5 linked regions of the Homo sapiens genome follow. The protein of the gene in region 1 purifies or fractionates together with the protein of each later gene. This does not show direct contact. Each region holds a gene or a part of one and is shown in the gene's direction. Other genes may lie near its edges.

Region 1 (6,359 bases):
AGTTCCTCATAGATTTAAAAATATTTTATTAAGGTTATAAAGAGTCAGATGTCTATATTAATCAAGGCTCTCCAGAGAGACAGAGCCAATGGCAGTGGGAGGTAAGAAGAGAAAGGAAAGAGTGGATTTATTTATTAGAGAAATTGGCTCATGCAATTATGGAGGCCAAGAGGTCCCACGACAGGCCATCTGCAAGCTGGAGACCTTGAGATGCTGGTAACATGGCTGAGCCCAAGTACTAAAGCCTCAGAACCAGAGAGGCAGATGGTGTAATTCTCAGTTTGAGAATCAATAGGAGATGGGAGGTCTGCTGGTATCAGTCTTGGAGTCTAAAGGCGGGGGAGCCTGAAGTTCTCATGTTCAAGGTAGGAGAAGTAGAAGGGTGTCCCAGTTCCAGCAGAAAGAGAGAGAGAGGCAAAAGGGGACTGAAGTTGTCTTTTTTTTTTTTTTTTTTTTGAGACAGAGTCTCACTCTGTCACCAGGCTGGAGTGCAGTGGCGCCATCTCGGCTCACTGCAACCTCCGCCTTCCAGGTTCAAGCGCTTCTCCTGCCTCAGCCTCCTGAGTAGCTGAGGCTACAGGCGCACACCACCATGCCCAGCTAATTTTTGTATTTTTAGTAGAGACAGGGTTTCACCATGTTGGCCAGGATGGTCTCGATCTCTTGACCTCATGATCTGCCTGCCTCAGGCTCCCAAAGTGCTGGGATTACAGGCATGAGCCACCACACCCAGCCAAAGTTGTCCTTTTATAAGGAACCCATTCACTCCTGTGATAACAGCATTAATCCATTCAGGAGGGCAGAGTCCTCATGGCCTAATCACCTCCTAAATGTCCCACCTCTTAATGCTATTTCCACATGAGTTTGAGAGGTAACAAACATTCAACTCATAGCAATGACCAAAGTCATATGAAATAATTACTTTCCCTGTAGTTATTTTACATTGAATTAATTTCCATTTGCTTTCAATGCTAGGTTTGTTTTTCTTTGGGTTTCATTTAATTTTTGAATATATATTTATTTGGTTCAGAAATCAACATTATGTTTGAATATTACATGTCCCAAAAAAGGAGGCTCAGAGAAATCTTCCCTGTATTCTCCACCTTTTCTCCCCACCTCTTGTTCCCATCTCCATTAATTTTTTAATTAGTTTTTGATTTATTCTTCCAGTATTTCTTAATGGCAAAAAATAAGCTATATATATATATAAAATTAATACATACCTATGTATATTTTTATATACAGGTATATATATGCATGTATACATGTGAATATATGTATATGTGTGTATGAATATGTGTGCATATGTGTATATACACATTATACACGTATACACTCATATGTACACACACATTTATATCCTTTCTTACATAAAAGGTGGTAAACTCTATACACAGTTATGACCTTGGCTTTCTTCACTTAACAGTTAATAGAGATTACTCCATATCAGTACATCAGGCTTTTCCTCATTTCTTTTATTGATATGTGGTATTCCATAGCACGGATGTGTCATAGTTTATTCAACTAGTTCTGCACTGATAGGCATTTCTGATGTTTGATATCTTTTGGTATTACCAGTAATGCTGCAATAAATAACCTTATGAATATATCATTTTGTAATAAATTATGATAAGGCGAGCAGTTGTGTAACCACCATCCTGGCTAAGAAATAGACTATCACTAGCACCCCATAAGCCCTCTGTGTACCCCTTCTGAAATGCAGCTTCCTCTTTCCTTCCTGCCCAATGGTAACCTGGATTTTTTTTGGTGGTGATTTATTTCCTCACTTTTCTTGGTAGTTTTACTGCCTAAGCATGCATTGCAAAATACTGTTATTTAATTCAACACTTGTTTAATGTTGTCTGTTTTGGACTTTGTATAAGTGGAATCATAAACCAAATACTCTTTTGTGTCTGAGATTTATCCTTCACGTTGGATGTAGCTGTTGTTCTTAGATGTTCATTGCTGTATGATACTGCATTGCATGAATATGTTACAGTTATCCATTCTATTGTTGAATGACATTTGAGTCATTCCCAGTTTGGGGTTATTATGAACAGTGCTGTTTATGTCTCTTGGTGCACATGCACATACATTTTTGTTGAGTGTTTTTTTGAAGAAGGATTCTCACAACTAGCCTCAAATTCAGTGATACTCTAGAAAAATTCCTAAGACCCAATAACAGGTTACACTTATAGGTAAGTTTTCTTACAGCAAAAGACACAGAGCAAACCCTCCTGCATGTTCTGCTGATGGTGAATTCTTCCAGTTTATGTTTCTCTGAAATATCTTTACTTCACCTTCATACCTGAAAAATAGTGTGGTCTGCTGATAGTGAATCTTTCCAGTTTACGTTTCTCTGAAATATCTTTATTTCATCTTTGTTCCTGAAAAATACTTTTGTAGGCTGTGTTAGCCATTACTTTCTTTCAGCACATTCAAGGTACTATTCCACTGTCTTCTAGGTTCTATATTTTCCTTTTGAGAAGTCAGCTGACAGTCTTATTGTCGCTGCTGTGAAAGTAACTGCCCATTGCCCTCGTCCCCGTCACCTTAGAGATTCCTTGTCTGGTTTTCAACATTTGTACTCCAATGTGTCTTTTGTTGTTTTATCTTCTTTGGAGTTTTTTTGAGTTTCTTAAATTGGTAGGTATTGAAGTCTTTCATCAAATTTAACAAATTCTCTGCTCTTGTATCTTCTGCCCATTCACTTTCTCCTCTTCTTCTGAGATTCTTAATGAAACATATATTAGACCTTATCACTACTATAGTCTCTAGAGCCTATAGTCTATTTTGTATTTTCCATTTGTTTACCTCTCTGCTCTTTATCATGGACAGAGTTGTTTTCCATTCACTAATTCTCTCACCCACTGTACCTAATCTGCTGTCAAACCCATTCAATCACTACTGATTTTAGGTTACTATATTATCTTAGTTTTAGAAATTCATTCTGGTTCTTTTTAAAATCAGCATGTCAGTTTTGGTACTTTTCAGTTCTGAAATTTTTAATTTTATCAACCATGTTTTTGAATACATTATAGTTAAAGTCTGAGTTGGATAACTCTAGCATTTAGAGTGCCTGTGAGTCTGTCACTATTATCTACTGTTTTCTGCTGGTTCCATTGTCTCTTGTGTGCGTTGGCCTTTTTCCTCACGTGTCAGGTTTCATTTGATCCTGCACCTGTTTTTTAAAAAAATTGAGGCATGGGATGATATCTTCTTCTGAGGAATTATCTTTGCTTCTCCCAGGGACCTGGAACCTTTAGCAGAACAGGATGACCTGAATAAGTGTTAAAGATTTTCTGGGCCACCTAGTTGACTAAAAACTAGGCTGAAGTTTATACAAGCTCTGATTTTTTTCTGGTTTGCTCTCACTTTCAGGATTCAACCCTTTGTGACCCCAGGCCAAATAAGATGTGGGAGATTTAACATGGCCCTGACCCTGGCTTCCAACTTCTGTTCCCTTGGCTCACATGGTTGTCAGAAGGGCTGTTCACTTCCTTACACACCTTTTCTGGAATCAGCAAATTCTCCTTGGTTAAAAGTAGCTTTTAAACGCTGGACTTACCAACCTGAAATTTAGTCTTCTCCCAGATCTTGGCCTGGGAAATTCTTAACTACCTTATTTGGTCTCTAACGTATACAACCAGATCTTTAACAACAACAGCAACAACAAAACTTGCCTCATGTTTTCTGCTTTTCTCCATGAGAAAGTCGGTTTAGATTAGCCGATTTTCTATTATCAGAAATCTCTTTCTGCTTCAAGTTATTATGGAATAGTCTCTAAACCTGTCAAAAAGCACTAAGCCTAGAAAACTCATAGGGGAGTTTAGGTAAAGGTGTCAAAACAAAATATTAAAGTTCCGTGTTCGCTATTCCAAAGCATGGAAAAAGGAGGAAGCCTTCCAAATTATTTTCATAAAGCTAACATGTCATTGATTCTGACACTTGACAATGGGAACATGCACATATACAACATGCACACACACAATTTCTGTGATCTTCAGCAATAATTACCATCTCCAGGTAAGTCATTTAGTTTTCCTGATTTTAGGGCACAATCCTCTTGAATTTGGCATTTCATATTCTACAATTTAAAGGTTAAAAATTAAGTGACATACTCAGGCATGGTGGCTCATGTCTATAATCCCAGCACTTTGGGAGGCTGAGGCGGGCAGATCACTGGAGCCCAAGAGTTCAAGACCGCCCTGAGCAGTATGGCAAAACTCCGTCTCTACAAAAAAATTTTTAAAATTAGCCTGTTGTAGTGGTGCACGCTTGTACTTCCAGCTACTTGGGAGGCTGAGATGGAAGGATTGCTTGAGCCCGAGAGGCAGAGGTTGCAGTGAGCCACGATTGCACAACTGCACTCCAGCCTGGGTGACAGAGTGAGACCCTGTCTCAATAAATAAATAGATAATAAATTAACAATAAAGTGCATCTGTGAAGAGCCTGAGCTAAATAAATGTTAGTTTTTCTTCCCCCTAGCCATTTGTCTAAATTATAAGATTGAATGCAGTGTCCAGGTCCCCTGAGAGTCCAGGTCCCCTGAGGGACTGAGTCTGTAGACACTGAGAATAGATGTGTGTGGATGAACATGGGGGTGGCGGTCTCGGGAGCTGCACCAAGGCGAATGCAGACTTTCAAGGAAAAGGTGGGGGACAGCAGATGAGACTGACATTTGGTCAGGCGAAGACTTCGCGGAGCGGGGAGAGTCGCACGCCTCTTGGTACTTGACTAATGCTTAGCTCCATTTCAGACTTATGGGAGAACAGCTGGGAAATGTTGCCAGAGGAATAAACATTGCCATTGTCAACTGTAAGTTACTAAACATTTTCTTTAAACTTCTCTAAAAGCTCTCTGGTCAGATTTTCAAAGGTACCTTGGGTTTTCGAGACTTTTGCGCGTGATTTAGTCTAGGTTTGTATTTTAATGCATTTTAAGATTATATACTCAATTATTTTTACAAGTCTCACTTCACAGATTATTTGTGGTTCTAACAACAAATAAACAACTGAAAACCAAATATAGACTTTATTTTAAAAAAAGAAAAAAACAGAGGGATAGGCCAAAGTTAGGGTTAACACCAGAAGGGCCGCCAAGGGGGTGCAGCCTGTGGTCCTGGACTGAGCCTCTCATTTGCTCCCAGAGTCCCAGTGTCTGCTCAGGGGCTGACACCATAGACCATCTCATCCTTCTGTGTGATAAAAGCCACTGCAACCTCGTGGGAAACAAAACTTGGCCTTTCTCTTAGGTCTGGAATAAAGCTCTCTCACAGTTGCCTTTGAGGGGCCCAGAGGAGAAGGAAAGGGTTTCCCACAACGTCCCTGTGAGTGAGTGGGCCGCATAGCCCCGAGACGTGAGGGCTGTGGAAGTGAAGATAAAATGCTCCCAATCTGACAGCCCTGAAGGAGGCTGTAAAGTAGGAAGTGGGCAGGCTGAGGGGGCTCTGGTGTTTCTGTGGGATGAGGCGGGTGGGCCTGGCTGAGGGGGCTCTGGTGTTTCTGTGGGAAGAGGCGGGTGGGCCTGGCTGAGGGGGCTCTGGTGTTTCTGTGGGATGAGGCGGGTGGGCCTGGCTGAGGGGGCTCTGGTGTTTCTGTGGGATGAGGCGGGTGGGCCTGGCTGAGGGGGCTCTGGTGTTTCTGTGGGATGAGGCGGGTGGGCCTGAGTGAGGGGTCTCTGGTGTTTCTGTGAGATGAGTTGGGTGGGGGAGGTATTAGTGTTCCATCAGGTGTAACCCAAAGCAAACTGGAAGAAAGTTCTAGCACAGCTTCCAGCACTTTCCTTTGACCTGGTTTTGGGGACTCTCCTCAAGGGGCCCGCCCTGTCTCTGCAGGCTGGGTCATTACATCAGTGGTGTTTGCTGGAGATAGACAGGGAAGAAATATTTCCTTCCCCAGGCCCTGGTGCCACAAGTGCGCCCTAGTTCTGTGAACTTTCTTTTAAAATACCATTTCTTTTATTTTCAGATGTAACTGGGAATGTGACAGCAACACGATGTTTTGATATGTATGAAGGTGGTAAGAAAATTTTTTCTGTTAAAATTCAAATGAATTTTAAACAGAAAATTAAGATTAAAAAGCACAAAGAAAAATGTCAACCATTTTTATTTTGTCTACTAGAAAAACGCCAGCAGCTCTCCTGAGTAATCTAGAGTGGTCTTATGTAGATCCTCTTAAACTCTAATTGAATTCATAGAACATTTGAAGGCATCATCTAGAAATGTCTTTTCTTCTGTTAGTTTTCCTCAGTCTTTCTCTTTTTAGCTCTCATGATATAATAAGAAAGAGAAAAAGCCTTTTTTTTAAAAAAAAAAAAAAGCCAAATACATTATATGTAAAATAAAGCCACCAGCATCC
Region 2 (5,620 bases), on another chromosome or scaffold:
AAAGTAGATCTGTGTAGACCAGAGAAGTCAGTCTCTACTGGAACATTAGCATTTGATAACAAGGGGTATCAAACATGTTACCCACGTTTGGACATGTTTTTGGCAGTTCTGATAGTCACAGTCTTTGGAATAATCTCTTCTTGTTTTCGTGCTCCTCCATTTCTGTCAGCACGTGCCCCTTGAGCAAATGTAAGCCCTGTACTTGTAGGTTGCACAGCTACAAAATGCCAGGGCCTGTTCATCACGCTTCTGTCAAGTGACTCCCTTTTACGTTTATTTTCTTCTTAAGGTATATGAGATCTTCTACTAAAGAATGAGGTGAACCTTTTCTGACTAAAACTTACACATCAACCTTGAAAACATCAATATGAAATAAGGAACTGTCTTTTTCGTTTTTTGTTTTTTGAGACGGAGTTTCACTCTTGTTGCCCAGGCTGGAGTGCAGTGGTGTAATCTTGGCTCAGTGCAACCTCCGCCTCCCGGGTTCAAGCAATTCTCCTGCCTCAGCCTCCCAAGTAGTTGGGATTACAGGCGCCCACCACCACGCCCAGCTAATTTTTGTGTTTTTAGCAGAGATGGGGTTTTACCATGTTGGCCAGGCTGGTCTCAAACTCCTGACCTCAGGTGATCCAGCCTCCTCTGCCTCCCAAAGTGTTGAGATTACAGGCGTCAGCCACCACACCCAGTCCAGAACTGTCTTTCAAAATTGTAATTACAGCAAGAATCCCTCTTCTTCCTCCGATCTACAGGAAACAGTGGAGGGAGTCGCTATATTGCAGGAGGTGGAGGTACTGGGAGTATTGGAGTTGGACAGCCCTGGCAGTTTGGTGGAGGAATAAACAGTGTCTCTTACTGTAATCAGGGATGTGCGAATTCCTGGCTCGCTGATAAGTTCTGTGACCAAGCATGCAATGTCTTGTCCTGTGGGTTTGATGCTGGCGACTGTGGGCAAGGTATGTTTACTGCCAAACAAATAAGAATGGGAGCATAAAACATCCTTGACAGGTAGAGAGAGTTTTGAATGGCTTTTGTTATTTAAAATAATGATTCTCTGTGTATCCCTTTACCAGCCTTGCATTCAAACTAGTTATGAAAGTAAGAGAACAACATAAATCACTGAAGAGGATCTTTTCCTGTTATTGTTGCAGTCTGGTGTTTTGTTTTGTTTTGTTTTGTTTGGACCAAGCAGATTTACCTTAGCTGAAAATATGTGGTGAAGTTTTAATTTGGAAACAAAAAAGGATATCAATAATTCATTAAATAAAGATGGTTCAAACACTGGATTTTGTTGATAGCGTATTAATGGAGTTTGTTTTGGCAGAAAGTTTTTTTCAAATGGATAAAAAGATGGAAATTGATTATTGTAATTTATTGTTAAGAACCATGCCATATCTCTATAGTGAGTCAGGATCACTATTTCATGGTAATTATTGTGACTGCCTCAGATAGTGAAATAAGCCCTATACCAGTAACTGTTGTATTAGGATATCTGATTATTTTGAAATTAAAGTCACTCTTAGAAAGTGAAAACTCAGTGCCTACTTCAGCAGCACATATACTAAAATTAGAACAGTTTAGGCATTAGCATGGCCCCTGCACAAGGACGACATGCAAATTCATGATGCATTCCCTATTATTTTTTTTAAAAGAAAGTGAAAACTCAGACTCAAAGAATTAAAGGAAAACAGAGGAAAAATGCCCAGTTAAAAAAAAAATCATGTTTCTGTTTTTTCCTCTAGATCATTTTCATGAATTGTATAAAGTGATCCTTCTCCCAAACCAGACTCACTATATTATTCCAAAAGGTGAATGCCTGCCTTATTTCAGCTTTGCAGAAGTAGCCAAAAGAGGAGTTGAAGGTGCCTATAGTGACAATCCAATAATTCGACATGCTTCTATTGCCAACAAGTGGAAAACCATCCACCTCATAATGCACAGTGGAATGAATGCCACCACAATACATTTTAATCTCACGTTTCAAAATACAAACGATGAAGAGTTCAAAATGCAGATAACAGTGGAGGTGGACACAAGGGAGGGACCAAAACTGAATTCTACAGCCCAGAAGGGTTACGAAAATTTAGTTAGTCCCATAACACTTCTTCCAGAGGCGGAAATCCTTTTTGAGGATATTCCCAAAGAAAAACGCTTCCCGAAGTTTAAGAGACATGATGTTAACTCAACAAGGAGAGCCCAGGAAGAGGTGAAAATTCCCCTGGTAAATATTTCACTCCTTCCAAAAGACGCCCAGTTGAGTCTCAATACCTTGGATTTGCAACTGGAACATGGAGACATCACTTTGAAAGGATACAATTTGTCCAAGTCAGCCTTGCTGAGATCATTTCTGATGAACTCACAGCATGCTAAAATAAAAAATCAAGCTATAATAACAGATGAAACAAATGACAGTTTGGTGGCTCCACAGGAAAAACAGGTTCATAAAAGCATCTTGCCAAACAGCTTAGGAGTGTCTGAAAGATTGCAGAGGTTGACTTTTCCTGCAGTGAGTGTAAAAGTGAATGGTCATGACCAGGGTCAGAATCCACCCCTGGACTTGGAGACCACAGCAAGATTTAGAGTGGAAACTCACACCCAAAAAACCATAGGCGGAAATGTGACAAAAGAAAAGCCCCCATCTCTGATTGTTCCACTGGAAAGCCAGATGACAAAAGAAAAGAAAATCACAGGGAAAGAAAAAGAGAACAGTAGAATGGAGGAAAATGCTGAAAATCACATAGGCGTTACTGAAGTGTTACTTGGAAGAAAGCTGCAGCATTACACAGATAGTTACTTGGGCTTTTTGCCATGGGAGAAAAAAAAGTATTTCCAAGATCTTCTCGACGTAAGTAACATCCAGCCTCATTCTTTCTCATGCTCAGGAAGAGTAAATAATCTCATGATAATATCATTATAGCTACCATTTATTCAGCACTTCCCTGTGCCGGCCATGGAACTAAATGCTTTTCTTACATGGTTTCATTTAATTTACCCAATAACCCTAATAATAAAAAATGTCATATGAAGGTATTTATTATTGCTGTCCCCATTTTGTAGTTTAGGAAACAGCCCAAGTGTGAATGAGTAAGGGATTTAGCCAGGGGCGTACTTGGAGGAAGGAGAGTGGGAAGTGGCATGTTGTCTTGTCTTGACATTTCAGATATGGTATTTTTCCAGCTTTACTGATGAAAAACCCTGAAGTTCAATTAAGTTCATTCGCTTCCCCAACATTATAACAGCAAATCAGTGTGAGCCAAGCCTCAAAGTTGGACTGCTCGTTGCCCTGTACCATGGCTTCACTGTGCTGTGGTGTCATCTGTACCTCTCCTCAGTGCTCTCACGGTGCTAACCACTGGGGAATGCAAGATGACGGGAACATAGCCACTGCTCATGTGGAAACTCAGGGACCAGTAGAGAAGACAAATTTGTGGGGAGAAAACTGTAGCAAAGAGATGTGTCTGTGTTGAGATATGGGCAAGAAGTTCAGAGGGAGGACTCCTTAGCTCTGCCTAGAAGTACTAGGGAAGGCATACAGAAGGAAGTGCCCTGTGGACTGACCTTCGAAGGGGTGGGAGTTGACAGACCAAAAAAAAAAATCATACAGTCTGGGCTGAATAGTGAAGGCACACAGCCACGAGTGGGTGTTAGGCTGGGAGAAAAGAGAGTGAAGGAGGAACTATGTCCTCAGCATTTTAGGAAGTATCTTGTGCCTTGCACATGAGGCATTTACAGATTGTCTAGTGAAGGACTGCAGTGTTCTTGACTATGTTTATTTCCTCAGTTTCCCCCATTTTCTTTCCTTTCCTTTCTTTTTTTTTTTTTTTTGAGATGGAGTTTCGCTCTTTTTCCCAAGCTGGAGTGCAATGGCGTGATCTCGGCTCACTGCAGTCTTTGCCTCCCAGGTTCAAGAGATTCTCCTGTCTCAGCCTCCTGAGTGGCTGGGATTACAGGCATGTGCCAGCATGCCTGGCCAATTTTTTGTATTTTTAGTGGAGACGGGGTTTCACCATGTTAGCCAGGCTGGTCTCGAACTCCTGACTTAAGGTGATCCGCCCGCCTCGGCCTCCCAAAGTGCTGGGATTACAGGCGTGAGCCACTGTGCCTGGCCTCTGGCCTCTTTCCTTTTTTTTTTTTTTTTTTTTTAAATTTACAAAAGCATTATAGGCTAGTAGTAAAAATTGCAAACAATTCAAAAATATACAGTAAATAAAGGAAAGTTCTTCCTTCTTCAGTCTCCTTCCCGGAGATAATTGCTGTTAATAGTTTGATGGGTATTCTTCCAGTATTTTTCTATAGCTATGCAAACATACCTATATGTATGTATAGTTATATATAGAGAAATATATGTATAGTGTAAATTTACATATATTTCCCTGCAGTTGCCTTTTGATGTAGTAGGATGTGGGCAAATGCCATTATTTATTTATTTATTTATACCCATGCCAGTGCCATTATTCTTTTTAATGGCTGCAGGTTAGTTATTTCCAATGTTTTGTGATTACAAATAGTGTTGCAGTGAATTCTCTTGTACATATATCTTACATTTCAGTGAGTTTTAGTTCTGCAGGTAGAATTACTAGCTTAGCAGGTATAAACTTTAAATATGTCTTTCTGAAATGTTGCACCACTTCATATTTCCACAAACAGTATACAACAGTGCTTGTTTCACTGCAGTCTAACCAACACCAGTTAATATCAGTCTCCTTACATTTTTATTTTTATCAGTTTGAGAAGCAAAAATATTTCTGTAAAGTGTTTGAATGCTTTGCCAATTTTCTTTGCCTATTTAGTTCTGCCACTGACTGGTTTTGATTTTATAATATTAAAACTATTATAAGATGAAACCAAATTTGTTTCTAGTCCTTGCGCTTAAAACTCAAGGACTTGCACATTTGATATCACCTGCAGAAATAGCTTGATATTGAAAGTACTATCAAATGTATATGTACATAAATTTTCTAAATGTTGCATTGAATTAGCTTTGACATCTCACAGTCAGTGACCAGTCCTTGAAGAATACCCTCCATATGTGACTGTTGTTATGTAGATCTCCATCGTACAGCTGTTGTTCTCAAACCAACATTGGTGATACTTGCACTGAAATCCAGTTGAGTCCTGCTAAGTCCAGTTTAGATCCTTAAAGTGACCCGTTAACATGTATTTCATTTGCTCCTAATGAAGAGTTCGTGACTAGTTATTACCACATTATATAAAATGTCTTGTAACAAAGTACACTTGTGCACTAAACATAATGCTGAGTTACATGTAGAATTCTCTTTTCAGGAAGAAGAGTCATTGAAGACACAATTGGCATACTTCACTGATAGCAAAAATACTGGGAGGCAACTAAAAGATACATTTGCAGATTCCCTCAGATATGTAAATAAAATTCTAAATAGCAAGTTTGGATTCACATCGCGGAAAGTCCCTGCTCACATGCCTCACATGATTGACCGGATTGTTATGCAAGAACTGCAAGATATGTAAGTCTTGCTCGTGTTTGAGTTGTTTGCTTGTGTTCAGAACTAAGGCTACTTGAAATGTGCATATTTACCATGCTAAATTTATAGCTCTAATATTTGATGACTAATATGTTAAAGGTATTATCTAAGTGAGAAAGAAA
Region 3 (6,359 bases), on another chromosome or scaffold:
CTAGGTATTCATATTTAAAGTATATATTGATTGCTGGCTAATTGTAAAGAGAAAAATCACTAAGATGAAAACCAAAAACAAACTAAGAAATTTTAAAACATAGTCAAGGAAAATTTATTTTCTTTTTTTCCCTTAGTTGAATTATTGCTATCTATTTATAATGATCTGATAACTAAACTTTTACTTAAAGTCATTTTTGTCGTAGCATAAAGTGAATGCTGAACACAGGAGTTCTGTAATTTTGAGGAACTCGGGAAATATTAACATTTAAAAATATTTTCTTGTTATACAATTTCTTTGGGATTGAAGATTTTATATATATATATATATGTATAATAATAATAATAATTATTATTTTTTGAGACAGAATCTCACTGTCACCCAGGCTGAAGTGCAGGCTCACTGCAACCTCCGCCTCCCAGGTTCAAGCGATTCTCCTGCCTCAGCCTCCCAAGTAGCTGGGATTACAGGCACCCGCCACCATGCCCAGCTAATTTTTGCATTTTTTTTTTATTTTTTTATTTTTATTTTTATTTTTTTTAGTAGAGATGGGGTTTCACCATGTTGGCCAGGCTGGTCTCGAGCTCCTGAGACCAGCTCGATCCACCCGCCTCGGCCTCCCAAAGTGCTGGGATTACAGGCATGAATCCACTGTGCCTGGCTGAACTTAAGTATTTTTGTAACTGTTTTCCTTATGAAAATATGGTTATTATAGAAAATATAAATAAGCCAAATAGAAAATAGCCAAATTGGATTTGTGATGTACATACTGTTGAAACCTGCTCTTTCAGTGAACTAAAGTGAATTTAGTTTTGAGAATTTAGTTGTATTCTTTGAGATAAAGCATAAGACCCTGAATAATTGAGGAAAATTGAAAGAATTTCCAGTTTTACTATCCTGCTAATAGAAAATAGAGCTTCTGATTATTATCATCTACTTTGTTATCTAGCATTCAGTCAACTGGATTCTTTACAGAGATAATATACAGTATATTTATAGTGATAAAGAAGACATTTGGGCAATATCCTGATATATCTTCTGAAGTATAGCTTATTTTTTTTTAAGAAATGGAGTCTTGCTATGTTGCCCAGGTTGGACTTGAACTCCTGGGCTTAAGGGATCCTCCCTCCTCAGCCTCCTAAGTAGCCAGGACTACAGGTGTGCTCTACCATGCCCAGCTCTGAAGTATAGTTTTAAAAAACCTGTTTAATACAGTTTTTAGTATTAAGTGAAGTTATTCTATTTCTTTGAAAATTTTGGTAAATATTACAGTATTTTAGTAGGTAAACTCTTCTTCTTTTTACCATATTGGATATCTGAATTTTATGCTTTTCTTCACAAAGAAAATTATGAGTTTAAAATCATCCTTTTGATTGTAAACTTTTTGAGACTTATCTTTGTAGCACAAGAGTAGCAAGTAACAGAACTTAGTAAATACTTTGCGAATGGGTAATGTGAAATCTGAACTTGCATAGTAATGAACACAATTCATCCACATTGAAAAATTAGCGGATTAGGAGTAAACTGAGTCACTCCTATAGAGCACTAGATAATTCTTAACTGATATATTGATCTACATGAGGCGTTTTTATTTATTTTTGATTTGTTAACATTCCTCTTTTGATGTATTAATCTGCATGCGTGTATATTATTTAAAGTTTCTTAACATTTCTCTGTTTGCTATTTTAGACAAGTTGCTTTGGCAGATGCCATTCTCATTAATAAAACAGACCTGGTTCCAGAAGAAGATGTAAAGAAATTAAGAACGACAATTAGGTACGAAATGATAAGTGTGTTAAGTGCCTACAGATCCATGTTGTATACACAGAATATTTTTTACTCTGATTGTTGCCCTGTAGAAACTTAAGGTATAAGGTTGAGCTGCTTCAAGAACGTTAGGGAATCACATATATTGTTGATGGCTAATTGTTATATAAATGGTAATACATAAAATTAGTCCCCAGTGCTTGCAGAATATAGTTCACAGTTAATAGACTGATATTCAGGGTCTTCGCACTCCATCTTTCTTTTCCTGTCTTCTCTTTGACTCTTTCCTAATGTCAGTCTTCCCTAACTTTACCCAGGATGGTTAATTCACTTTCCCATGGATGCATCCTGTCAGTTCCTGTCTTTACTCGTAATGTATTCTCACTCTGCCAATCCCTGAGTTCTTTCTTGTTCTGCTTTTTTTTTTTTTAATTTATTCTATAGAGCCTATTCTGTCTCTCCCCCCTTCCTATGTGAAGTCTTCCCTGACTCAAGTGGTCTCAGTTTTCCCTGAACTCTTGTTGACTTCATCTTCCTTAACTGTCAACCATGCCTTGTCTTCCAGCTTGCTTTAATATCTTCTTTGTCCATAGCCAAGGCTGATCAGCATAGGACAATCAGGACAATATGAATGATGCTCAAATATGTGCTAACAGTCATTTTGCTGACTGTTCTGGAGACTCCCATTCCTTTTGAAAACAAAGATGGGCTTTTCAAATGAGGTTATAGTTCAGGGGCTTTGTTTTGAATTATTTTGTAAGACCTGAACTAATAAAAGCCCTATACAGAGAGACATTCGGTAGCTATTAGTATTGGTTATCTTTAATGTGTACAATGCTTTGAGCGTGATGGCTCAAAATTACTATTCTTAGTATTTATAAGTTCTACTGACATTAGATTTTGAATCTGTCATCTCAGTTCATATAGTATATATTATCAATTGAATCAATAAAGGTAAGGCTCATTAGGAGATTATTTGCCATGATTAATGATTGTGGAAGAAAGAAATTCATATTTTTTCCACATATTTCATCTTATTTTAATAGTAATGTCCTTAAACTTTACTATAAAAAAATATAATGTCTCCACGTGGAGGGTAGGTATTGTTGCGTAGTGTTGAAGATCACAGACCTTGGAATCTGCTTGGGTTCTAATCCTTGGTCTGTTTCTCATTGTCTTCTTAGGGAGCTTATTTACCCTTTTAAAGCCTCCTCTGTAAAAGGCATAATGCCTATCATAAGTTTGCTTTGAGTATTACATGAGACAATGTTGGTAAACTTTGCACAGTGCTGACACATAGTAAGTGCTCTGTTAGCTATTATTATGTAATTTTTTTCTTAGCTTACATAGTAAGTTCAAGGTATAGTAAAAAAGGGAAGAAAGAAAAAGATGGCTGATTTTGAAAAGGAGAAAGTGATGAATGAAGATTGCTTTTACATTTTTTGACACTGGTCTTCTAATCTTGTTTCTCTTCATAAATCTTGTGCACCATTGTGATTGCTAAGAAGAACACAATCTATTTAGCAAATGTTTTTGGCATAAAAGGAATGATAATTATTACTTGACTTTTATATCCTTATAGAGACCTAAGCTAAATCTCTGACACTGACAATATTGACTATTAGCCAGCTTGTTAACAGTACTAGAAATGAATTTGGAAGAAGCAATTTGATAAATTACACACCCTTTTGGCTTTTACCCTCCCTTTATATCAGACTTGTGACTGACTCAGAATGATATTTGGGGAGGTGAAAAAAGGTAAACATGTTTGAGAGGAATTAGCCATCAGACTAGAGTGTATTCAAAAAAGAAGATTTAAGAATTTTGTAAAATAGTGGAGAGACTTGCCTCAGAATCATTATATGTGGGAAGCCTTACCCATGAGAACAAACTTGAACAAGTAGCAAGAATCTTGGGTAAGTAACCCTAAAGACAATTGAATTCATGATAGAGAATTGATGATTGATGATAGGCAATGGAAAAGATAAATAGATGAGGTGTACAGTGTGTTGAAAAGAATTTAACAGGTACTTTTTGGTGCCATACGAAGCCATATTCTATAGTATCAAAAGAGGGAGAACAGGCATAACGGGTAGAGAGCCTAATTAGGTAACTGACGAGGTTATTCTATAAAGGAACCTGGGATGTGTGACTTAGAATTACTGTGAATACTAAGGACAGGCTGGGGGCAAAGCAACTTGCAACTAGGTTTTTATTTTTAGTGTGTATATAGCCATTTCTACCATGTATGCCTGAGGAAAAAAGTGACCACCGTAAAAATTTTGAGTATCTACTCATTTTTAAGAACACTAGGATAACTGACTATTTATGAATGATTTTTTCTAAAGTGAAGTGTCTTTTTATTAACCACAAAGTAGCCCTTAATCTGACAGTTGTGCGAATTTTTGCATATATGTTTTATTAATGTATGAGTGGAATATATGTGATTTATTGTTTGAAGGAAAATCACAATTATTTTTTAAAGCAAGTTTTGTTTTTCTGTTTTTAATTTTTTTCTGGTTCCAGATGTATTTGGGTATGCTTATTTCCTGTTTTAGAAACAATATACTTTGTATACTTTTTTAAAAAGTTAATTTTTACTTTTAAACTTTGTCTTCCTCATTTATTATTTATTTCAGATCCATAAATGGACTAGGACAAATCTTAGAAACACAAAGATCAAGGTACTTTAAAAAAGCTATTCCTATTAATAACAAATCATTTTAGTTATTAATAATAAACATTAAATAATTGACAAATATGCTTGATTCTAATATAAGAAAGATCTAAGTGCATTTAAAAAGAATTGGATCCAAAATGTTGTTTGGAATGCTCTTAATAAGTTAGTTTGGCATATTTGGCTAGTACATTTGCCTGTCTTCAAAACTAAGAATACAAAGCCATGATAACACTGTGTAAGTGTTTGCTTAATGAGGAAGAAAAGACTTCCAAACACTCGAGAGGGTAACTCAGTACAGAAATCTGAAGTATATTGAGGAATCTTAATTTGAAGTGTTTAAATGGCTTTTTAATATTTAAAAAGCCTTCTTAGTGTTTTATAGTTGCCAAAAAATACATGGAGTCTTTACCTTGAAGTTCCTGACAAATTCTTTTATTAAATTTTGACTTTCATTTTCTCTAGGTTCTGTTCCTAAAACATCTGTGAAGTGTATTTCTGTAGATTAAATTCTGTTTTCCATTGAATGTTATCTTAATTTCAGAAAATTTCTGTGCAGGGTTATTTTATTAAGCTCATTTTTTTTTTTTTTTTTTTTTTTTTGGTGAGAAAGGCTCAGCAGCTAATAGACTCAGCAACAGGCAGCCAGGAGCTCTGAGGCTCACAGCTGGCAGTCTAGTTCCACTCAGTCTCTACTGGAGAAATTCTTTCTTTGGAAGTACAGCAGAGGCCTTAGGTGAGTGGCTTGTCTGCTATGGCAGAGATTAGAGGTGCTGCCAGACTGCCATAAGTGTTAGGCAGTAACAGCAGCAGCTGCTTATATGCATGTGAACAGCTGGGGAATTAATTTGGTATGCATTCTCAGGAGCCACTCATCTGCTGGCAGAGGTAGCAGAAGAATGCCCTTAGTGTAAGTCCTCTACAACCATACACCAAATGTGCTCCCTGCATTTCAAATTCCATTGTAGAAAGTCTCTGATAATCTCACTTATACTATGAGCCATTCCTCAGTATCTGTCCTCTTCCTGTTAGTGTTCTACAATTCCTTTCTCCTTAATTTTTCTCCGCTTTACAAAATGTCACACAGACAAGTGCATAATACTTAAACAAGCTTTTAAAAATAATGCTCATAAATAGCTTTGGTTCTGTCATAATATTCGTATTTATAAACATTTTAAGTCAATTCTCTTCTTTTGTTTTCATTTCAGAAATATCCATGTCCTGAATAAAAGTTGTGTCTTGATTAGTTTATTATGTAACAATTTAGTGTGTTTGACATTTCTAACTTTTATTTCTAACATTTGCTTTATTATAGAACAATAAACATGCAGTGATTGATTTTTCTTACTTCAAGTGGATGAGTGAGCAAGTGACTAAAATCTTCTGTGAATTATTCAGTGTATGGTGCTTGCCAGTGCATCTGAGAATCTAGGGACTTTCTGAAATAGTACTTCCTTGCTATGAGGACTGAAGTTGCATTAGAATCCTTTTCAATGAAGATCAGATGTCCTGAGTACAATTCTTACTATTGGGTCCTGAATCTTACATTAAATATTCTCTCAAATTCCTTGAGGCATAGCAACTTGAGCTTACCAGTTTAGAAACTGGAGATTTGGGCTGGGCGCGGTGGCTCACGCCTGTAATCCCAGCACTTTGGGAGGCCAAGGTGGGTGGATCACGAGGTCAGGAGATGGAGACCATCCTGGCTAACACTGTGAAACCCCGTCTCTACTGAAAATACAAAAAATTAGCTGAGCCTGGTGGTGGGCGCCTGTAGTCCCAGCTACTCAGGAGGCTGAGGCAGGAGAATGGCGTGAACCCGGGAGGCGGAGCTTGCAGTGAGCTGAGATCGCACCACTGCACTCCAGCCTGGGTGACAGAGCGAGACTCTGTCTCAAAAAAAAAAAAAAAAAAA
Region 4 (6,359 bases), on another chromosome or scaffold:
CAAAATGACGTTGCCTCTCTTCTCTTCCCAACACCTGGCGGAGAATATCCCTTGTAGCCCACTTTAGAGACATAGTAGAAAGGGAATTTTGGCAAGTGTATTCAGTGTAGGTAAGCTGATGTGTCCCAAAGCCATCACACGTGTGTGTGATTTTTGTCTGTTGTAAGCAGTGCTTACGTAAACATATTTATGCATCTGTTCAGTAGTTTTTTGGAATATATTTTTTAAAGTGGAAGATAATTTTGAACTGTTCTTTTAGCTTAATATGGAAAGAAATGGTAAGTTATGCTTTTGAATGAATAGTTGTTTCTCTAGATGATGATGTGCTGGATTTAGAATTTTTTTTTTTTTTGAGGTGGCATTTTACTCTTGTCACCCAGGCTGGAGGGCAGTGGCACAACCTTGGCTCACTGCAACCTCCACCTCCCAGGTTCAAGTTATTCTCCTGCCTCAGCCTCTTGAGTAGCTGGGATTACAGGTGTCTGCCCCCATGCCCAGCTAATTTTTATATTTTTAGTAGAGATGGGATTTCACCATGTTGGCCAGGCTTGTCTTGAACTGCTGGCCTCAAGTGTTCTGCCTGCCTTAGCCTCCCAAAGTGCTGAGATTACAGGTGTGAGCCACTGTGCCCGGCCTAGAATTTTAAAAGGATAAAAATAGACCTGGATATTATTAAAAATAGTTTAAAAATATTTTATAACCTGTATATTTGTTTTCACTTTTTTTAATGGAGAGATTTTTCAATACATTACTCACATTTTGTTTTTTTAATTTTGTTCTTCCAGTCAGTTGGTTATGAATATATCATAGGGGAGGGTTGTGTAATCCCATTTGGGCTACATGACGGCATTTGGAGCAGCCAAAAGGGTAGAGTACTTGGGTGGACAGGCCTAACTCACTTGCCCATCCCTGTGCCAGGAGTGGCTCCAGGTATTAGGGCTCCACAGTGCCACCAGATACACAAAAGAAGGGAGAGAGGTGTTGAGCACTAAACAGCAGAAATTGGCTGCAGTGTTGATTGCTTCCTTCACGTTGCTTTTACACTTTCTATGGATTTTGAAGTGAAAGGTCTAACCTGGGTTCTTATTCAGCTACTTCCTAGCTGTGTGAACTTGGGCAAATTAACTGCCTTTTTAAGCCTGAGATTTCTCATTTGTAAAATGGTGAAAATAATAATGTGTTACTTTAAAGATACAATTTTGGTAAAGCTTTAAAAATTTATTTGTAAATAACAGATAATTTAATTCAATAATATGAAGTATCTACATACAGTTATTGCAGTTATTAAAATTACTTAGTAATGTATCCTAGAATAATTTGTTATTCCAGGATGTTTATTTCAAGATATATACATTTGATATGCTCCAGCCATGTTTATTTTCATTATAAAATTGAATCTTGGTATAGGTCATATTGGCGGTCTGTTAATTAGAATTGCCATAGCTGGTTATTGATAATAAGAGTAAGCTTTTGAGCTACTGTGTTAAATGATTTATATACGTAATTGCTAATAATAACAATTTGGTCTTGTTAGGTATTTTGTGGATAAGAATACTGAAACTCAGTATAAAGGTTAGGAACAAGGTCATTGGAGTAAGAGCTGGAGTAAGCTCAACCCTGCTTCTTGTTGGCAGGCCTTTCTAGTCCTCAGTTTCCTCATTTGTAAAAGGGGATAATATATTTATAATGTATGTCAAGTATCTAGTATAGGGTGGTAGATAATAAATGTTCAGTACATGTTAGTTTCTATTGTTACTTTTATTGCCCAAGAGCCTTTCACCTTATAGTAAGGGGTCCTTTGAGGATATTAACTCTTAACATGTAGTATCCCATTACCATTTTGGACAGCAGAAAATGCCCAAAGTATTCTTACTTTTCTTTACTCATATACCATCTTTTCTGATTTATTACTCCACCGGTGCCTTGCCATATTTTAAGCACATCAGTTAGTTTCATCATACTATAATTTATTAATCTTTTGAAATAAGAACAATATCTGTTCTGTTCTTTATTTAGAAGCTCAGTAAACTATATAAAGGATGAAAAAAGAATGGTCGGAATATTCCATTTATCTCGTTGTGGGCATTTGGGTGCTTAATTATTTAAATTTATTAATAACTTCATTTAAGCAGTAGCATTAATTTATAGTATGAGCTAGGAAAGTAGTTTTGCAGCGTTCCATGGAACCCATATGTACGCATCTTGAAAGTGTGATTAAAACAGGTATGTTTTTAAAAATTTGTTTTTATATTGGTAATAAAGTGTTTTCATTCCATCCCTCCTCACATGAGTACTGGGGAATCTGGACTTGAAAAGCATTCAGAAGAGTTCCAGAGGCTAAAGGAAGTAGAAAATAAAGGTTTAAAGGCTTTTGTAATATAGAAGTGATGCTATTGCTCACAATGAAGAAAATGATGGTAAAGGCTTGTATATCCATGTATCAGAATATTTAATGATGACAGTTGCAACAGATAATTGAAGAAATACAATGCATTAAATTCATTTTTCTCTTTTTTGAGATGGAGTTGCGCTCTTGTTGCCCAGGCTGGAGTGCAGTGGTACAATCTTGGCTCACTGCAACCTCCGCCTCCTGGGTTCAAGTGATTCTCCTGCCTCAGACTCCTGAGTAGCTGGGATTACAGGCATGTGCCACCACACCTGGCTAATTTTGTATTTTTAGTAGAGACCGGGTTTCTCCACATTGTTCAGGCTGGTCTCGAACTCCCGACCTCAGGTGATCTGCCCACCCCGGCCTCCCAAAGTGCTGGGATTACAGGCGTGAGCCACCGTGCCCAGCCTTTAATCTTTTGCTCTTGAAAATAAAGATATTTTGTTATTTTTACTCAGTATTCTGAGGATTTTCCAGTATTGAGGAAGGCACTGAGGAATTATTAAAAAGTTATTGGACCGACCGTCACGTTTAAGAGAATTAAAAAAAAAACATATTAGTCATATGAATAATCTTACACAGTTGTGCTTATGACCTTGAAGATACGAAGCTGAGATTGAATGGTGCAGATGGTAAAGCAAAATAGTGACAAAATAGGTTATACTTCAGACTAGAGGCAAGATATAGTTTATTGACAGCAGTGGATCCTGTATTTTATTATACTGTATTGCTGAATAGGTTGAAACTGGTTTTTTTTTTTTTTTTTTTTTTTTTTTGAGATGGAGTCTTGCTCTGTTGCCCAGGCTGGAGTGCAGTGGGGTGATCTCAGCTCACTGCAACCTCTGCCTCCCAGGTTCAAGTGATTCTCCTGCCTCAGCCTCCCAAGTAGCTGGGATTATAGGTGCCCACCACCACACCTGGCTAATTTTTGTATTTTCAGTAAAGACGGGGTTTTACCATGTTGGCCAGGCTGGTCTTGAACTGCTGACCTTATGTGATCTGCCCGCCTCAGCCTCCCAAAGTGCTGGGATTATAGGTGTGAGCCACTGCACCTGGCCAAAACTAAATTCTTAACAGCAATATTATGTAAATTTTTGAAAACTTTGATAATAAGATCCCTTCAGAGGCTTGTTTTCTGCTAATGAAATAGTTCATAGGCTGTAATATGAGTTTTAATTTACTTAATGTGGTTTATTAACATTTTATACTCTGAAATTACATGATTTTTAGTTTTTAACTTAAAAGATTTTGGTGATGGGTGCCCCATAAAATTTGTCAGTCTTATTTCTTTGAAGACTTTTGAGTTATTAACGTTAGCCCAAGCTTGCCATATTTTGGTGAAAATTGAAAGAAAACGCCACCAAACTTTTTAATATTTTTCAAACATTTTTGAAGTTTCTTGATAAGCAGTTATCAGATGGACTGAAGATATCAAATAGAGATGAGATATTGAAAATTCAGGCTTCTCATTTTTTTTTCAAAGACAGAAGTTATAATATTCAGTAAATCCAGCTATAGACATTCATATATAGAAGTATTTGCCTTGCCAGTAAAAGGGATGCATGCTTTAATTTTTTATTGCTTTGTAAATGATCCTCTCCTCTATTCTTGAACACTTTTCTTATTTTTGTACGCTCTATAAATGAATTATGGTTTTGAACTTTTTTACATCAGTAATAAAAATGAAATTTGATTGGTTGGTAATAAAGAAGGTTCTTTTCATAAAAGCAATCATTTTGTCATGACAATTCTCGTTAACTGTAACTGTGTTGGCAAAATAGAAACCATAAAATGCATTTCACTGTTTTTATACACTTAGCTATGTTTTTTTGCTGATCATATATTTTATCTCTAAGAACTTGTATAAGCCAAAGAATTTCTTCATAACTTGATCTGTCTTTAGATGGAAAAAAATAGACTTTTGATGTGTATATTTATTACAGTGGATACAGTATCTTTGAGTATTACAATGGTATTTACCCCCACATCATATTTTATTACCTGGTCAATTTAGAGCACTAATCAGAACTTTATATGAATAAATTGTGTCATTTGTATAACATGAAGAGGCCATTATTATTCCAGTGTTTATTTCTGTAAAGTAATATTGGCAGCTGACTCAATGAACTAGCCTTCTTTTGACCTCCATTTCTTTTGATTGTTAGCTTTTATGTTATAGAAAAATGTTTTGGCATTATGAATTATAAGTAATGTTTCTTTCTTATTTTATAAATTTAAAAAAAGATTATGTCTTTATGAGAAATACCATAAAAATAAAAGTTGCTATCTAGTTTTTTGTTAGATGCTATCATTGTTATTTTTACTATTACTGTTATTACTGTTCATCGATTTAAGATTCTAAGTTGGCTAGTCCAGGAGAACTAGTTACATAATGTTAACTATTTAAGTGATAATTGACATTTGTTCTTACATTGAGATTGTGAATTATTTTTGATGTATTTTCTCCCTAAACAGTTTTCTCCTTTTTGCCATCTACGTGCACTGATTTTCTCATACTAGCATTTGGTGGCTGTTTGGAGAATATAAAATAATTTTAATATTAAAATAAATATTTAGAAACGGTGCTAATGTGTGAGAAATTACAGAGTGCAGATTATAGACAAATATAAACTATGCTTTCATTATTTACTGTTTTAGATTATCTTTGTATCATAGGTAAATGACTATTGGTTTGACTTTTATGAAAAGATATAGTTAGATTTGACTTTAGCTAGAGTTGTTTCTCTCTTGGATTCTCTTTTGTTTCCTCAATCTGTGAATAATGTAGCAACTGCCATTTAGGTCAGTTTTTAAAGATGGATGTAAGCCATTCTAGTCACTGGGTACCAAATCCTGGGGACTAGAGGCCAGGGAGTCAGGGTGATGTGGTCAGCAAATTGGAGATATAGTGAGATTTCAGGAAGGCAAAGATTCAAGATATTGGATTAATAAAGTGAAACTGTAGGGAAAGTGCAAGTGTCAAAATCTATGTCTGAAGCAGTAAAGGGAATTTATAAACGTAATATGGTCAGGAGTCAGCTTGGTAACCGATTTAGATAAACGGAATTCTGAGGCTTCAGATGAGTCAACATTTTGTGTGATTAATAGTAACTATCAAAAGTCTTAACTGGCAAGTTACTTTTGCAGTGTAACAAACCACCCTAAATTTACAGGTGTAAAACAGCCACTTTCTTATGTTTATGAATCCTGTGGGTCAGTAATCCACACAGGGCACATGTTGTGAGTGGCACAAGGTGAGATATAACCATATCCACACACATTTGTGTCTTTCCACAAGGTCAGACTTCTGTTGGTGCTTATTCAGTCATAAAAGCAATAAGCAACATCGAGTTCCTTAAGGAGGCAATTCTCCTTAGTACTACCTGTTCACTCAGTAGTCAGAGCTGTGGCACATAGACTAAGCCAATCCACAAGTCAGTCAATGTTGCAAACCGCACGTAGCAGTATACTTAATATATAAATGTTATAGATTAAAATTTCCACATCACACAGTAACATTTAACATCAAGAGAAAAGGGGACAGGAAAAGAGGTAATGAACCAGTCTAAGGAGAGCGTCATGGACAAGGATAGTGTCCTGGGCTGATCCAGACAGTTGTCAGTGTCTTGCAAGGAAGAGTTCTTGATTTGGGCAGAGCATTTGGCAGCAAATGCTGGGTGCTGATCATGAGTGACTGCCAGACAGTGTCTATTAAGATGGCCATCTTGAGTTGGTGGAGTTCTGCTCCTTTTATAGCCCTCACATCTTCTGGTGAGGACTGATAGTAAAAAGTGTGTCTGGTTATGTCTTTGTCTGGTTGGTACGTGTAGTCTCTGTTGATTAGATGAACATGTGGTCCCTGTTGGCATGATGCCTTTTTAAATGTAAGGTGGGGTCTTTTTCTAAGATAGGGTTACTTATGTATAGGGTGCTGTATACAGCACAGGAAAGATGGTTTGTCTCTCACTCA
Region 5 (6,359 bases), on another chromosome or scaffold:
CCCATCTAAGGAAGTATTGTTAGCTCTTTGGTATAGGCCTTTCCAGGCACAAATATAAATAGATACAGTTGTCCCTTGGTATTCATAGGGGATTGGTTCCAGGACCCCTGAAGATACCAAAATTCAAGGATGCTCGAGTCCCATATATAAAGTGGCATAGTGTTTACGTACACACATCCTGTATATTCTGACTCTTCTCTAGATTACTTAAAATACCTAATACAATGTAAATGCTATGTAAATAGTTGTTATACTATATTGTTTTTTAATTTGTATTGTTGTATTTTTTGTTTGTTTGTTTTGAGACAGGGTCTCACTCTGTTGCTCAGGCTGGAGTGCAGTGCTGTGGTCTCAGCTCACTGCAACCTCTGCCTCCCGGGCTCAAGTGGTCCTCCCACCTCAGCCCCACTGAGTAGCTGGGACTACAGGTGTCACCACCACACTCGGCAATTAAAAAAAAAAATTGTAGAGATACAGTCTCACTGTGTTGCCTAGGCTGGTCTCAAACTCCTGGGCTCAAGTGATCTGCCCACCTAGGCCTCCCAAAGTGCTGGGATTACAGGCGTGAGCCACTGTACCCAGCTTATTTTATTGTATTTTTTTTTTTCCTGGACATTTTCTTTTTTTTTTTTTTTGAGACGAAGTCTCACTCTCTCACTCTGTCACCCAGGCTGGAGTGGAGTGGCAAGGTCTCAGTTCACTGCAACCTCCACCTCCCAGGTTCAAATGATTCTCCTGCCTCAGCCTCCCAAGTAACTGGGATTACAGGTGCCCCCCACAGTGCCCGGCTAATTTTTTTTTTGTAATTTTAGTAGAGACTGGGTTTTACCATGTTGGCCAGGCTGATCTTGAACTCCTGACCTCAAGTGATCTGCCCACCTCAGCCTCCCAAACTGCTGGTATTACAGGCATGAGCCACTGCTCCCGGCCTTCCTGAACATTTTCTGTTTGCAGTTGATTAAATCCACAGATGCAGAACCCATGGATACAGAGGACCGACTATGTTGTGTTTTTATTAAAATGGAATCCTTCTATACACATAGTTTATAGCCTCCTTTTTACACTTAATAGTATATCATGTAGTTTTATTCTGACAAGATTGGGAGCACTTTGTACAGTGTTGTTTTTTCCCTTCTTTTCTTCACATAATGTGCCACATGTAATCTCTTCATTTTGACCTCTTCATCTCTTCACGTTCTCAGTCCACTCCTTCCTGTTCCTCCCCTACTTCCTCCCTGGATGGTGAGCTCCTCTGGGATGCTGAGGTGCCTTCTTCACTGGGAGTCCAGATCAGGGCTGGGGTCAGCCTCAAGAGATTCTGGCCAGGAGCCCTGTGGTGGGGGCAGGGAGTGTGCTTCTGCTGCACAAGTCGCCTCTCCTTCTGTGGAGCCCAGAAGGTCCCCTCCCCCTTGCGCAGCCCCCATCCCGGGCATCAGGGCCTCGTGGGGGCCTCATGGTGCCATGTCTACAGGTGCCCTTTCCCACCATGGTGGCTCTGCTGTGCATGTGGTTCGGGATCTCCCTGCCCCTCGTCTACTTGGGCTACTACTTCGGCTTCCGAAAGCAGCCATATGACAACCCTGTGCGCACCAACCAGATTCCCCGGCAGATCCCCGAGCAGCGGTGGTACATGAACCGATTTGTGGGGTGAGTCCTCCAGCAGAGGCAAGAGCAGGGGAACGTGGAAGAGGGTACGCCCCCCTCCGCCACCAGAAGGGTGCGGCAACCAGAGTTCCTGCCGCTTCAGCCGGCTCTAATAGAGTTTATGAAAGCTTAACTTCACTCCAAGATCAAGGTGACCAGGTTGTAGGCAGACTTGGTGTCATCCTAGGAACCAGGACAAGGAAGGGGAAGGATGGAAGGGTATAGTGAGACAGGTTAAGACCATCACTTGGACCTTGGGCAAGTCACCCCACCTCTCTGCACCCCAGTTGCCCATCTATAAAATGAGGAGAATAATGCCCACCCTGCCTACCTCTCAAGAGATTATAATAGTACAGAAATATGCCAGAAGAATTAGCACCACCACACTCGTGTAGGTGCTCTCTCTTCATGCCAGCTTGGGAAGGAGCTTGGGGCTTCCTGGTGGCCTGGTCTCTAACAATGTCAACCTCTCGTTCTGTGGCAGCATCCTCATGGCTGGGATCTTGCCCTTCGGCGCCATGTTCATCGAGCTCTTCTTCATCTTCAGTGTGAGTACTGGTGCCTCCCCCACCCCTCCACCCATGCTAGCCGGGTCACTCCCACTCCACTCGGGTGCTCTGCTGCCTACTGCCTGAGAAAGTTCAGATGGGCCACTTCACCTCTCGGAGCCCCATTCTTCACCCTGAAATTGGACAACAGCCTTCCCTCTCAGGGCAGCATTGAAAGTGAAATGAGGCTGGGCGCGGTGGCTCACACCTGTAATTTCAGCACTTTGGGAGGCCGAGGTGGGTGGATCACAAGGTCAGGAGTTCGAGACCAGCCTGTCCAATATGGTGAAACCCTGTCTCTACTAGAAAATACAAAAATTAGCCGGGCATGGTGGCACACGCCTGTAGTCCCAGCTACATGGGAGGCTGAGGCAGGAGAATCACTTGAACCTGGGAGGTGGAGGTTGCAGTGAGCCAAGATCGCGCCACTGCACTCCAGCCTGGGTGACAGAGAGAGACTCCATCTAAAAAAAAAAAAAAAAATTTAAATGAGATATGTGGTGTGTGGGGAGCCTGGTGTGTGGAAAGGGGGACTTGGTAAATAGAAGCTGCCTCAGTGATACTTCAGTCATTCCCCACCATGACTAATAGCATCGTTGCACCTGGTTTCATTTCTGGGTCCTTGCACATCTTTACCTCTCTGTGTTACTCACAGCTCCTGGGAGGGTGGACAGAATGATTCCTGCTTGTCAGGGTCATTGTGAAGTTGGAATAAGTCATTGTAAAAATGCTTGACTTCAGGAAATGCTGTTGTAATGGTGATGATGACTCCTCCCAAAGAGTGCCAAGATGAAAGTTGGTAGGAAGGCCCTTCAGAGGCATGTAAGTGTGGCTGACCCAGCTCGGGGCCCAGCACAGATGGTACCTTGTACCAAGTCAGTACCGGACATGTATCTGCTATTCCAGAGTAGTGGCCCAGCCCCTCCCTGCTGAGACCACCTCACCCACACAGGTTTGCCTGGGAGAAGGGTCAGAGGAGGTGTTGGCTGCCCATGGTACCAAAGCCCATGTGCACTTCCCAGGGAAGCCCCCTCTGTTTCATCTGTGTGACTCTGGGCCAGTCACCAGCGTCTCTGATCCTTGACTTTCTTAGCTCTACCAGGCCAAGCTTTCATAGACACACACATGTAGCAATTGTATATGAGGCATGTGGCATAAGGCCTAGCGCTTGGTAAGCTGCTCAAGTGGTGGTGGCTGCTCTATAATTTTGATTTGGATAAGAATCATTATTTTCTACAAGCTGCTGAGTTCAGGCTGGGGTCTACCCAGAGCAGGTCAGTCAACCCCTGGCCCCTCCCTAAGGACAGTGTGGCTCACCCCCTGCTCTGGGGAAGAGGGGCCAGAGCCACATGCCAGGCCCACGGGCCCTGATGGTGTCATGATGATGTGTCCACTCCTGCCCTTGTGACAGGTTGGTGTGCCAGGGGAAGGGGAGCAGGGTGGTCAAGCCAGCTGAAGCCCCACTGTGTGTCCACAGGCTATCTGGGAGAATCAGTTCTATTACCTCTTTGGCTTCCTGTTCCTTGTTTTCATCATCCTGGTGGTATCCTGTTCACAAATCAGCATCGTCATGGTGTACTTCCAGCTGTGTGCAGAGGTGAGGAGAGCAGGGCCAGGAGGCGGGGGAGGGAGAACTGGATCCAGCATTGAACGGGTTGATGAGGCTCTGCGGAGAGGCTGGGTCTGGGCTCTTCATGTGGCCCCTGCTTCTGGCTCTGAGCTCTTGGGCCAGTACGTTGCTGTGCCTCTCCCAGCCTCCATGTATTCAGCTGTACCCTGGGCCTAATGAGATACCTTCCAGCTTAGTTGTGTGGGGTACTCACCACAGCTAGATGAAAGGACAGTAGATTTGCCAGTGCCAAGTCCACTCCAGTAGTAGTTTCTTCAACAGGCTGATGCACACTGGGTGGCCTGCCCTCCCTCTGGGAACTGGCCATTGGCAGAGTGGGTGAAGCCAGGGTTTGGGATGAACAGTCCCTCTGGGCTGGGACCCTGGCTCCTCCATGAGTAGCTCTGGGTCTTGGGCGGGTTGCTTAACTTCATGCCATCCGTTCCTCCTCCACATGATGGGGTGAGTGAGAGGACCTAACTTGGAGGGCTGCTCTCAGGATTAAATGAGTGGATTCATCTATAGCACTTAGAGTGGTGTTTGCCAGCCAGGCACGGTAGCTCACGCCTGTAATCCCAGCATTTTGAGAGGCTGAGGCGGGCAGATCACAAGGTCAGAAGATCGAGACCATCCTGGCTAACATGGTGAAACCCCATCGCTACTAAAAATACAAAAAGTTAGCCGGGTGTGGTGGCACGTGCCTGTAGTCCCAGCTACTTGGGAGGCCGAGGCAGGAGAATCACTTGAACCCAGGAGGCGGAGGTTGCAGTGAGCCGAGATCGCACCACTGCACTCCATCCTGGGCGACAGAGTGAGACTCCATCTCAAAAAAAAAAAAAAAAAAAAAAAAAAAAGAATAGTGCCTGCCACATGCTAAGCATTTGCTCGAGAAATGTTAATTATTTTTTTGTTGTTGATTTTTTTTTTAATGAGGTATAAACTGTAAAGTTCACCCTTCTTTGTCCACAGTTCTGTGGTTTTTAGAAATGCATACAGTTCTGGAACCACCATCACAGTCAAGCTGTGAAACATTTCCATCACCCCATATGTTACTGCTCTTACCAGAGTCTTCAGCCCCTCAAGCAACTGTGAAATTGGTAGGAAGGGGTTCTGCCCCAGGACAACACTGACCTTCCTCTGTTTCCTCCTCAGGATTACCGCTGGTGGTGGAGAAATTTCCTAGTCTCCGGGGGCTCTGCATTCTACGTCCTGGTTTATGCCATCTTTTATTTCGTTAACAAGGTACTGCCCTCCTTGAGGAGGTCCTCTTAGTCCTCATAGGGTAGGAAGGTCAGGAGGAGGATGCTGGGAGAAAAACCCAAGTGCCTGAATCTTCCTTTTCCACCCAGAATGGGGAGGACCAAAGCCACCTAGAACTGTTCCTGCTCTAGAAGATGGATCTTTTTAGGAAAGAAAGAATCTGTATTCTGTATGTTTGGGAGACAAAGGCCATCAGGATACGTGACAATGTGAATAATGCTTGTAAAACTTACGAGGTATAGCCATAGCCAAAGCAGGACTTGAAAGCAATATGTCACCTGCAGTGCTCTTCACAGGAAATAAGAGGGACTAATAACACCTTGAGAAAAAGGAAAAGATAAGAGTAACATGAAAGAAGAAAAGTAGAAAGGAGTTAATAAAGATAAAAGCACAAAATGCTGAAATAGTCTAAATAGTAGAACCCAAATTTAGGGCTGCAGGTATCCTGTCTCTGCAGGTGTTCTCTTCTTCACGCAAGTACTGTTCAATCCTGCAGAGTAAGGAGAGGATGGGAAAGTTTTTCACAGGCACCTCGGAGCCCTCCTAACTCTGTGACCCCACATAGGTAAAGTGTGGCCCAATAATAAGAGGGAGCCAGGCTTACCTGACTAGGGCAACTCACAGAGCTCATTGTCCCGAGAGAGAGACGTGGGCAAGAATACAGATGTCCCCACGACAGTTTTACTAGATTCATTCATGATACACAAACCAGATGAGCCATTGAGAGGAATTTGGAGGAGCCCTGTTGGGCCCCTCACCTCCAAAACTAATACTCAAGACTTACTCTGACCTGCTGTACTTTGGGTCTCCAGAGCCCAGAAGCAAGCAGTCCTCTGTGGCAGTCAGGCGTATTTGCAAAATAGAGTTGTAGGTCAGTTGATCGAAGCTGGGAATGCCGTTTCCCAAAAACAGTCAAGTTGGAAAAGACTGGAAGGATCATTTAGTGTAGTGCTGTACCCCTACCTCCAGTCTGGTGACTGTGCCCCTCTTCTCTAACAGTCTCAACAGATGATTCTCTAGCTCAGGGGTCAGCAAACTGCAGCCCGCGTGGGCCAGCAGGCCTGTTTCTATAAATTTTTATTGGAACACAGCCATGGTCATTCATTAACATATCTGTCCATGGCTGCTTTCACACTACAATGGCAGAGTTGAGTAGTTGCGACAGGGACCATATGGCCTGCAGAAACTAAAATATTTACAATCTGGCCCTCTAAGTAAAAGATTGCAGACCCCTGCTCTACTACATCCAGCAACAGAGAAGACACTCCCTCCTAACATTCCCATTCTTTCTGGACAGC

Evidence for each region.
Region 2: the proteins of FAM3B (region 1) and GNPTAB purify together in Homo sapiens (affinity purification with mass spectrometry; one large-scale study listed by BioGRID and IntAct). This does not show direct contact.
Region 3: the proteins of FAM3B (region 1) and ZNG1A purify together in Homo sapiens (affinity purification with mass spectrometry; one large-scale study listed by BioGRID and IntAct). This does not show direct contact.
Region 4: the proteins of FAM3B (region 1) and MTX2 purify together in Homo sapiens (affinity purification with mass spectrometry; one large-scale study listed by BioGRID and IntAct). This does not show direct contact.
Region 5: the proteins of FAM3B (region 1) and TM9SF4 purify together in Homo sapiens (affinity purification with mass spectrometry; 2 studies listed by BioGRID and IntAct, with this or other methods). This does not show direct contact.

Annotation. Positions count from the first base shown.
Region 1 is NC_000021.9:41,339,717-41,346,075, forward strand, and holds part of FAM3B (protein FAM3B isoform a precursor), read left to right. Parts: intron 1-4,759; coding exon 4,760-4,818; intron 4,819-5,969; coding exon 5,970-6,020; intron 6,021-6,359. UniProt on the Homo sapiens protein: Induces apoptosis of alpha and beta cells in a dose- and time-dependent manner.
Region 2 is NC_000012.12:101,761,424-101,767,043, reverse strand, and holds part of GNPTAB (N-acetylglucosamine-1-phosphotransferase subunits alpha/beta precursor), read left to right. Parts: intron 1-749; coding exon 750-953; intron 954-1,739; coding exon 1,740-2,842; intron 2,843-5,280; coding exon 5,281-5,480; intron 5,481-5,620. UniProt on the Homo sapiens protein: Catalyzes the formation of mannose 6-phosphate (M6P) markers on high mannose type oligosaccharides in the Golgi apparatus.
Region 3 is NC_000009.12:150,126-156,484, reverse strand, and holds part of ZNG1A (zinc-regulated GTPase metalloprotein activator 1A), read left to right. Parts: coding exon 1-4; intron 5-1,689; coding exon 1,690-1,776; intron 1,777-4,406; coding exon 4,407-4,451; intron 4,452-5,057; exon of another isoform or gene 5,058-5,180; intron 5,181-5,759; coding exon of another isoform or gene 5,760-5,778; exon of another isoform or gene 5,779-6,359. UniProt on the Homo sapiens protein: Zinc chaperone that directly transfers zinc cofactor to target metalloproteins, thereby activating them.
Region 4 is NC_000002.12:176,274,904-176,281,262, forward strand, and holds part of MTX2 (metaxin-2), read left to right. Parts: intron 1-6,359. UniProt on the Homo sapiens protein: Involved in transport of proteins into the mitochondrion.
Region 5 is NC_000020.11:32,156,323-32,162,681, forward strand, and holds part of TM9SF4 (transmembrane 9 superfamily member 4 isoform 1 precursor), read left to right. Parts: intron 1-1,471; coding exon 1,472-1,647; intron 1,648-2,128; coding exon 2,129-2,192; intron 2,193-3,669; coding exon 3,670-3,789; intron 3,790-4,953; coding exon 4,954-5,043; intron 5,044-6,359. UniProt on the Homo sapiens protein: Associates with proteins harboring glycine-rich transmembrane domains and ensures their efficient localization to the cell surface.